3 separate regions of the Homo sapiens genome follow, and all the other regions are reported to be linked to region 1. Evidence: microRNA targets listed by miRTarBase, many of them from high-throughput screens and not tested one by one. Region 1 holds a microRNA gene; each other region holds the end of a gene's coding sequence.

Region 1 (3,000 bases):
CCCGCGGGGCGGGGCTGCGAGCCCACCCCTGCGGTCCCCGGCCCGCCCCGGCGCCCGGGAAACTGTGTGGCGCTGCGGGCCGCGCGAGAGGGACGGCAGGGGGCGGGCGCGGCGCGGCTGCTGACTCACCGGCTATAAATAGCCCGGGATATATGAGCCGCGCCGCCCAGCGCCGCCCTCAGTCCCCGCGGCCGCGGGCCACGGGCGCGCAGCTCCACTCCTCGGCGGCCTAGTCCCTGGCCCTGGCCCTGGCCCTGGCTCGGGCTCCGGCTATGCCAGCCGCGGCGCGGAGTCCTTGGGCGGCTCTGCGGGCGCGCGATTCCCCCCCACCCACTTACCCCCCACCTGCCTGTCCGCGGAGCGACCCAGCCGCGCAGGGCAGCAGCTGCCGCACATCTGGCGGGGGCCGCCTGCCGCCCCCTCCTCCGGCGGAAGTCCCACCTGCCGTCTACCCCACCCCCAGCACTCACCCGCCGCTCGTACTGTGCGTTGAGGTCGTCCGCCATCCGCCGCAGCTGGGCCCCGATCTCCCGGGCCCACTGTTCCTCCTCCCCGCGGACTCCCGGGGCCGCCTGGGTGGGACCGCCCGCCAGAGCCCCCGGGGCGCTGGGCACGGGCGACTCCAGGTGCTGCTCCGCCAGCGAGAGCGAGGGCTGAGGACCTTGGAGAGGCAGAGGGGCGCGGTCAGCACCCACCACCCCTCCAGGCCTCGAGGTGTCTCGGCCTGCTCCCCTCTTTCCCAGCCACTGCTCCCCGCCTCATTTCTAGTGATCCCATCGCTAGTGAGTCAATTTCTCAGCTTCTCCTCCACAGGCACCAGAAAGCAAGAAGTACCTGGGGACGCCGCTCTGGGGTCACCTGTCTGGCCAGCTACGTCCCCACGGCCCTTGTCAGTGTGGAAGGTAGACGGCCAGAGAGGTGACCCCGGGGGTGGTCAGGCTTAACGACCTCTATTTTCCAAAGGGGCCACATTTTGCCTTTTCCATGTGACAGGCAGGGAAACTGAGGCCCGCCCTTAGGGAGTATCCCAAGGTCACACAGGGATACAGTGACTGACCCCACCCAGATCACAAGCCTCAGGTCTCCTGCCCTCTCGTGTCCAACCACAGGGAAGCCACACCTCCGGATGTGGCAGAGGCCTAGAGACCAGAAGGCCAGAGACTGTGGCAGCTTCAGAGCGCGGGCCTGGGGGGCTGGGACGCGGGAGATGCCTTCCTGCCCCCCCCCCCCCCCCACTTCTGAGCGCCCTAGGAGGCTCCTGCCCTCCCGTCCCACCAGGTCCTGGCCTGAGGGTTCCCTAAGGCCTACAGCCAGGGCCTCAGTTTCCACATCTGTGACCTTGGCCTTGAAATCGGTGTCCCCTTCCAGGGCTTCCAGGAACTGAGTTAGGGAAGTTTTCTCTTTCCTCGCTCCCCTTGGGCTGCCGGGACAAGATGGGGGATGGGAAACCAGGACACACTTTCCCTAGAGCGCCTGCCGGCAGGGATGGGGCTCCACGGGCACCACAGGGTTAACAGCCCATCAGGCAGGGGACCTTTAACCCTTCCCTCCCCAAGACTCCCCCACCTCCCCGAGGGGACTTCCCAACACAATGGCCCCTCCCCCTCTCCTTCCTCCGCCGGGACTGCTGAGGACAGCCCCTGGCCAAAGAGATGCAAATAAAAGCAAAAGGCCTCTCGACCCCTCCCCAGAGGCCAGAGTTGACAGTCCTCCCGCTCGGCCCACTCTCCCTGCAACAGGAATCCTCCAGGGGGTCTAGAGGACCCAGACTGGGGGAGGGGAGCTGGGATGCAGCTGTTGCCCCAGGCCCGGAAGAGACAGTGGGCTGCAATTCGGGGACTGCAGTCAGATTCCAGGAGGGACTTCCCACTTGACCTCCCCCTCCACCCCCAGCCTCCGTCTTCCTGCTTCTTGCAACACAAAGACCACATTGGCCACACCCTCCCAGTGGCCCGGCTGGGCCCGCCACCTCCCCCCGTCCTCTCCCACTTCTCCAGTTCCTCCGAGTCTCCAGCCCTCTCTCTTCCCGGCTCCTATCACCCCGGGGGCGGGGCGGGCACTCACCGTCCGGGCGCGGGCCTCGGGGCCGGCTGCGGGGACCCCCAGGCCAGCGGGAACCCCCCAGGGCGGCGGTGACGGCGGGTGGGGCGGTGGGGGCGCAGAGGTAGGCAGCGGGCAGCAGGGTGGGGGCGGCGGGGGCGGCAGCCAGGCCGGGCTCGCAGAGGCCGCAGGACACTGCCGAGGGCACCAGGCGGCCGAGCGGGAAGGGGCGCGGGCCGTCGCGGGCCAGGCCCTCTACGGGCTCCGGGGAGCTGCCCTCCTGGCGTGCGCGGGCCATGGCGCTCCCTGGGGCCTGCGGGACACGGGAGGAGGAGCAGGTCAGCAGGGAAGTACCAGGGCCCACTGTACCTCCAGCCTACCCGGGGTTAGGACCCAGATGGAGAAGAGTGGAGGTGTGTGTGCATGCGGAGGGGGTGACGGCCCCACAGAGACACGCCCAGCCGGGGGATGACACCACCGGGTCCTGGCTGGCCTGGAGAGCCTCCCGTGCATACGGTGATGGGCACACAGGAGGGACAGGGGGCACAGGACGGCTCTCACAGCAAGGACAGGGCTCACACAGGACGGATGGAGGGGTCTAGCAGGTGTGTGTATGAGGGCTGTGACAGTCCCACAACACAAACTCACTCCACTTGGGACTCACAGCATGGGCTGGTGGGGACAACTTTCCCAACACAGCGACGGGCACACAGGGAGGGCAGTGAGGCACAGCGAGGCCCCCACAGCACACACACAAGGACTCACACGGGACTGGCCAGCCTGACCGCCCACCCCACCTCCCACTTGCACACAAACACTGAGATGGCCCCAGTCTCGGACATCACTACTCAGTACACACAATACACACACACCCCCGACCAAAGCAGGAGCATCCAGACAGACCATCACAAGCACTCTACATACTGCGCACACTGGCTGGCACAATCCATCCCCACACAT
Region 2 (3,000 bases), not on the chromosome of region 1:
CACTCCTGCAGCAGACTGAGGACCAGTTCCTGTCCCCGACCCTGGCGTGCAGCTCCCCTCTGATCAGCTTCTCCCCATCCTTGGACCAGGACGACTACCTGTGGGGCTTGGAGGCGGGTGAGGGCATCAGCGATCTCTTCGACTCCTACGACCTTGGGGACCTGTTGATTAATTGAGTGGCCCTGCCTGCCCCCAGCAGCCTGCCCCCGACTCTACCTCCTCACAGACAGGCTGACAGCCCCTCTGCCTGCACAGGGACATTGGACACTAGGTGCTGCCCTCAGGGCATGGGGTCTCCTCGCCTTTCCTGCCCCAGCCGGCAGAAGCTGTGTGGGGAGATATGAATGGTACGGGTGAGGAGTGGATAAGGGGTGGTCCTCACCTTCCTAATGGAAGCTGGGCCTAGGGAGGCCCATCCAGTCTTCTGACTTCTGACCTCTCACAAGAAGGCTGCAGGTGAGGTGGCCAAGTCCAGGGAAAGGCCCTGCTACCTCCTTTTGAGGGGTAATTAGGACCCTCGACGTACCAAGAAGCACATAATGCCTTTGTATTTATTTCAGGTTGAGTTGTTTGTTTGTCCTCCCTGAGTTTTAGCAGGGAGGTTGTTCTAGTTTTTAGTGAGACCTCTGCAGACAGGCCCATCACTGTCCATGTTCCAGGGCAGGTCTGGGTTTCCAAGGGAGGGGCCCAGGCTACATCCTTGGTTTCCCCACTGTGGTGGGGGCTGGGACTCTGAGGGGCTGTCCAGTCTGCTAGAATGCTAATTGCACTTAGGCCTCATGGTTCTAGTAAACGGCAGCTGTGGGCCCTTTTGCCTCTTCCCCTGTTCTTGGCCTCACATCTCCAGCTGAGCTGCCGGTCTTGGCTTCCTGGTCGCCTCTGTCCCAGAGATGGTCCCAGGGAGCCATCCTAGGGCAGGTAGCACTGAGGCTCCTGTGGAAACAGGAGCCACCTGCTCAGGAGACCCCTTTCCTGAGGAAGTCCTTACCTCTCCCCTTGAGATGTAAAAATGGTCCAGCAGAGACAAGCTCCCGTGGAAAACAGACAGGAGCATGGGGGCAGCTGTCATGGCTGTGGCGGGCACTTTTCCTCAGAGTTTCTGCCTTGCGCTGGTCCAGGAGCCATTTTGCACCAAGGACTTGGTAGGCAGAGGCAGCCCCACTGTAAAGAAGGGTCAGATTAAAACAAAAAACTGCCAAAAGCATCCCCTCTGCCCCCCATGTGGCACTGGCATCATTCTCTGCTTCCCTGGGAGGAATTTTTTCACCATGTTATTGAAGGGGATGGTTCATTAAGGACTCCACCCCTCAGAGCTCACTCAGACCCCAAGGACAGAGGTGACTGGGGCTTGGTGACTTGTTCACTCCTTTTTTCCCAGGTATACTGAAGGGGTGACAGAGAGAGGTCTTCATGGCAGACCAGGCCTTCACAGCTAATGGGGAGAGGAACTCATGTTACCTCTGCAGGCCTGGGGTCCTGAGGGGGTCTTTTGGCTTCAGCCTGTTCCCCCAGAGGCTTGATCATCCCACATTGTCCCTTCAGCTCAGCTGCTCTTCTCCCCCACCCACCCTGGGATGTGGGTGCTCTGGGCTGAACCAAGGCTATGACTTCTGGAGAGAGGCTCAGGGGTTGGTCTGAGAGGCCTGCCATCCACCCCTCAGGGAGCTAGGTTTTCTCAGAGGCTCAGCTGGACAGCACTTTTTAGAAAAGTTTGTAGCATTAAGCTGGTTTAAAATATGAAGTTGGTTTTGTTGGATGGCTCCTGAGCTGACTGACTGATGTCTGAAGTTTGAGACGAGGGATTATTTCAGGGTGGGGCCCAATGTGATCTAATGCCCAGCTGGGGACAATTGTGCCTCATCATTTGCTCAAATTCCTGGGCCCCCAAGTTAGCCCCCTCCCAGGAGTGGTCAGCGGGTCACAGCTGCCCCCACTCTATAAGCAGGGCTAATTGTGTACCCTTTGCAGAAATGCTTTTGGTCTCCTACCCAAATACTCACAAGGGTCTTATCAGACGCCCGTCTTAAAGTCCAGCATGCTCAGGGACCCTGTGTAGGATCTCGTTTGTGGTGAGTGGGCTGCTCTGAGGTCTCCACTGGGCTGCCATTTAGCCATGTGCCATCTCTGAAGTCAGAGGTGTTTGACTCCCATTCCTTGGGCTCTGGAGCTTTCCCCAAGAATTACATCAGAGAAAAGGAAGAAGGGGCCTGCAGGACCCATTGGGAATGAGTTTAATACTGAAGTCTGGAATGTAAGCTCATGCCCTAGAGGCCTCTCCATATGGCTGGTCAGGGGAGCTGCCTTCAGGCTTGTGCCCCGTGTGCTCAGCAGCTGCCTCTGTCCCCCTCTACTGTCCCTTTCACACCTTGCCTGGCCAAGGGGCTAGACCTCCCAGGCTAAGCCTCAGATTCAGTGCAGGACACAAGCTCATGCCCCCGTCTTGCCAGTGACACTTGAAGCCTCCCGACTTCCACAGAGTGCTTCAGGACACATTTTGAGTGGTATTTTCTTTTCTTTTTTTCTTCTTTTTTTTTTTTTTTGAGATGGAGTCTCGCTCTGTTGCCCAGGCTGGAGTGCAGTGGCCTGATCTCGGCTCACTGCAACCTCTGCCTCCCAGGTTCAAGCGATTCTTCTGCCTCAGCCTCCAGAGTAGCTGGGACTATAGACATGCACCACCACGCCCGGCTAATTTTGTATTTTTGGTCGAGACGGGGTTTTGCCATGTTAGTCAGGCTGGTCTTGAACTCCTGACCTCAAGTGATCCACCACCTCGGCCTCCCAAAGTGTTGAGATGACAGGCACGAGCCACCAGGCCCAGCCTGAGTGGTATTTTCTTTAGGGACCAGGTAGACTTTAAAACGAGGGTAAGAGAAAAGCCAGTGTCTTTCTGAGGTAAATAATTTCTGCCAGGAAACTTCCCAGCCCCACCAGCAGCCCCCCTAAAAAAATCACTCGTGTCCCCAGGGACTTCTAAAGCTTGGGGCTCCAGGAAATCATCCA
Region 3 (3,000 bases), not on the chromosome of region 1:
TCGGTGCGTGGACAAGGTGTGGCCGTCCCTAGGTGCGTGGACACAGAGTGTGGCTGTCCCTAGGTGCCTGGATGCAGAGTGTGGCTGTCCCTAGGTGCGTGGGCACAGGTGTGGCCATCCCTAGGTGCATGGACACAGCATATGGCTGTCCCTAGGTGTGTGGACACAGAGTGTGGCCGTCCCTAAGTGTCTGACCAGAAGTGATGTGAGCTTTGCACCCTCTTTTTGGGACTGTGGCTCCTTCTGTGGTCTAACCCTGGGAGGGTCCTGGGAGGCCAAGACTGGATCCCCGGGTGACTACATAAAGCCTGGCGGTCTCGGCCTGGCAGAGGTAGATGCAGGGTAGTATGAGGCTGATGGATGGAGCTCAGGGCGCCCCGCTGCTGCCGCTGCTGAGAGCAGAGCATGCTAAACCAGGACTCAGCAGGCAGTGACTGTCTGAGGCCCTGGGCAGGTCACTTAAGCTATCTGGGCCAGGCTCTTGTCTTGACCAGGGCCCCCCAGTGACCGTAACGAGGAAGGGTTTGGATAAGAATGTGTCAATTGTTTCCATTACTTCTCTGCATGGGGAAAAAGGGGCCCATAAGACAAAAACATCGGAAACACAGAAAACATTAGATCTCTAATTTTAATAGTTGAGAGGAAGGTTATAAAATAAAACAGACAACACAGAGCTTCATGACGGCCTCGGATTGGCAGTCAACCCAGGGATACAGAAATGTAAACAAAAACAGAGCTTCCAGATAACATTACTGTGTGCTATGTGACTTTCAGAATACAGCAGCGTCCCAGACACTCTAAAGTCAAGTGAAACAAGAGATTTTAGAATCAATCTATACACATTTCAGAGGGCAGTCCAGGAAGGAGCCTTCCTCTCAGGTCAGCCCAGGGCTGGGCCTGAGCCTGAGCCCGGGGACGTGTAGACACTACCCATTTTGGGCAGGGGAGGCCAAAGTGGTTCTGCTTCAGGTGGGGTTTGGCTTTAAGGGGCTGCCCAGCTGGCTGTGTTCTGGGGACCTCTTTTGCATTTGCCTCTGGCAGGCTGGCTCTGACCCCTGCCTGTTTTTCCCTTTGGCCCACAAGACGCACACCTCTTTACACCCAGAACCCCTTTCCCAGCTGCAGCAAGGGAGCAAGGGAGCCAGCCAGCCAGCCAGGACGGGTCTCCCCACAGCCACTCCAAACCCCAGCCTGGTCAGGTGAAAAAGTCAGAAAAAAGGCAACAGATACAATTTGGTAGCCATCAAATCCTCTCCTCCCTCTGGAAGTTTCTGAGGTGCTGGTCATCATTCTGTCCCATTTTTTGCCACTGTGCTAAGGCTTTTGACTCAACCAAGAAAAGGGCCGGTCTTCCAGCCTGGCCCTGCAAGAGTGTCCTAGTGCTTCAGGTAGTGGATGGGCATCGTCATTCGTCCCACCTTCCTGCCCCCTAAAGCCCCAGGAGGACACACTCTCAGCATCAGGCCAGCTCTCCGGGTCACTGGGGCTTGGCTCAACAGGATGTGCAGGGCAGAGCCGGGAGGGAAGAGCAGAAGATGCCATGGGCTGTTCGCAGGAGCAGCCGTCCAGGGCGCCGCTGGAGGAAGATCTTCTAGTGGCTGTCTCAGCACGTACAAAGAACGGGGGTGGGTTGGGGCAGCCCCCGCCCAGAGCCAAGGCACAGAGGAGGTTTGAAATGTCCAGGATAAATAGAAGCGCACGGGAATGGAGAAAAGCCAGCTCCATCCCACTCTTAAAAACATCGCCATTGGCACCAAAAATATATTAACATCTGTACATTTGTCATCTTTAAAAAATAAAAGGAAATAAAACCTTCTTGGCACCTTGTAGTTTATTTCTTAGAAATGAGGTGATATGTGGAAAGGCTTCCTGTGCGTGCACACACACACAGCAGTGCACACACACAAGCACACGCACACACACGGCTGGGCACACATGTGTGCCTCTCCTTGCCGGAAGGACAGAGCCCTCCAGAACCCTGAGCATTAGAAGCCCTGCCAGGTGGGGGGTCTGCTGCCAGCCCCCACCACAGTTGTTTGCAGGGGTACCCTTTGCCAGTGCTTTTGACTCTGATGTCCACTGGGGACCTGCAGCCCCTGCCCTGTGCTGAGAGGCGGGGGCAGTGGGATCCTAGCTCGAACCTCCTCTGGGTAGGAAGTCCTGCTGCCAGGCACACAGTGCCTGTCTCTGTGGGCGGCTGCTTCTAATTGAAGGCAGCCTTGGCCTCATCCCTTCTCTTGACATAGGTACATCTTCCCAGGCTCAGAACAGCCTCGGCCCATAAGTCAAAAATGCAAAAATGAGCAGAGGTCATTGCTGGGCCTGAGTGAGCACGTGTGCCCAGGGGGGAGACCAAGGCACGGGGGCTCCAGTCCTGATCACTGGTGTTCGGGTGAGAGGTTGCAGGAGGGTGGGCTGGCCAGGCAGCTGGGAGGCAATCCTGGATGCTCTTGGGGCTTCCAGGAGCACCCCCAGGGCTCGAGCCACTCACAGGTGGGGGCTGCCCTGCAGCAGGGAAGTGACAGTGTTCTGTAGTGCCACGGCCACCTTCTTGGAGGTCTTGCGCAGCAGCGGGCTGTCAGGGTGGTGCTCCTTCAGGTGCAGGACGTGGCCCTCCTGGCTCTCAGATGTGCAGCCGCACTCCTCACACACGTACAGCTTGGCCCGCCGCTCCTTGTACGCGTACTTCTGCTGCACACCATGGATCTTCTTGAGGTGAGACTCCAGAGAGCAGCGCTGCGTGAAGGCCTTGTCACACAGGCTGCACTTGTAGGGCCGCACGCCTGTGGGGAGGACAGGGGCCAGCATCAGAGACCTGGCAGGGACTTCAGAGGCTGTCGGCTGCTTCCAGACACAGAAAGGACAGGACCCCTGCCTCTAGGGCCAAGGGATGGACGGAGGCCTGTCCAACACCAACTTCCCGAGTGACTCTCAAATCAAAACTCCTAACTGATGAGCTCAGGAGGACTTTGGCCCTGAGCTCCGGGATGCCCTCCCAGG

Evidence for each region. The annotated mature microRNA hsa-miR-3190-3p reads UGUGGAAGGUAGACGGCCAGAGA and lies in region 1 at 895-917, shown strand. An mRNA with a match to its seed (bases 2 to 7 or 8) in the 3' UTR can be bound and repressed. Matches are read on the target gene's strand: a 7mer-m8 pairs with bases 2 to 8, a 7mer-A1 pairs with bases 2 to 7 and ends in A, and an 8mer does both.
Region 2: the mRNA of E2F2 is a reported target of hsa-miR-3190-3p. Seed matches in the 3' UTR shown: 8mer at 2,468-2,475.
Region 3: miRTarBase lists OVOL1 as a target of hsa-miR-3190-3p. Seed matches in the 3' UTR shown: 7mer-A1 at 1,856-1,862.

Annotation. Positions count from the first base shown.
Region 1 is chr19:47,226,094-47,229,093 of GRCh38, forward strand. MIR3190 (microRNA 3190) reads left to right here and starts at 849; the gene lies at 849-928. BBC3 (BCL2 binding component 3) reads right to left here. Exons shown (of 4, transcript NM_014417.5): 2 at 2,065-2,353; 3 at 471-661. The coding sequence starts at 2,338. It overlaps MIR3191 (microRNA 3191), which reads right to left and starts at 926; the gene lies at 851-926. RefSeq lists silencers at 1-413, 1-74, 444-743, 1,964-2,403 and an enhancer at 989-1,931.
Region 2 is chr1:23,507,056-23,510,055 of GRCh38, reverse strand. E2F2 (E2F transcription factor 2) reads left to right here. Exons shown (of 7, transcript NM_004091.4): 7 at 1-3,000. The coding sequence ends at 176. Among named protein-coding and RNA genes, the nearest start is that of E2F2, 23 kb to the left of the region's middle.
Region 3 is chr11:65,794,829-65,797,828 of GRCh38, reverse strand. OVOL1 (ovo like transcriptional repressor 1) reads right to left here. Exons shown (of 4, transcript NM_004561.4): 4 at 615-2,783. The coding sequence ends at 2,488. All of the region lies in intron 4 of LOC124902693, which reads left to right. Among named protein-coding and RNA genes, the nearest start is that of OVOL1-AS1, 5.5 kb to the right of the region's middle. RefSeq lists enhancers at 1-9, 1,589-2,089.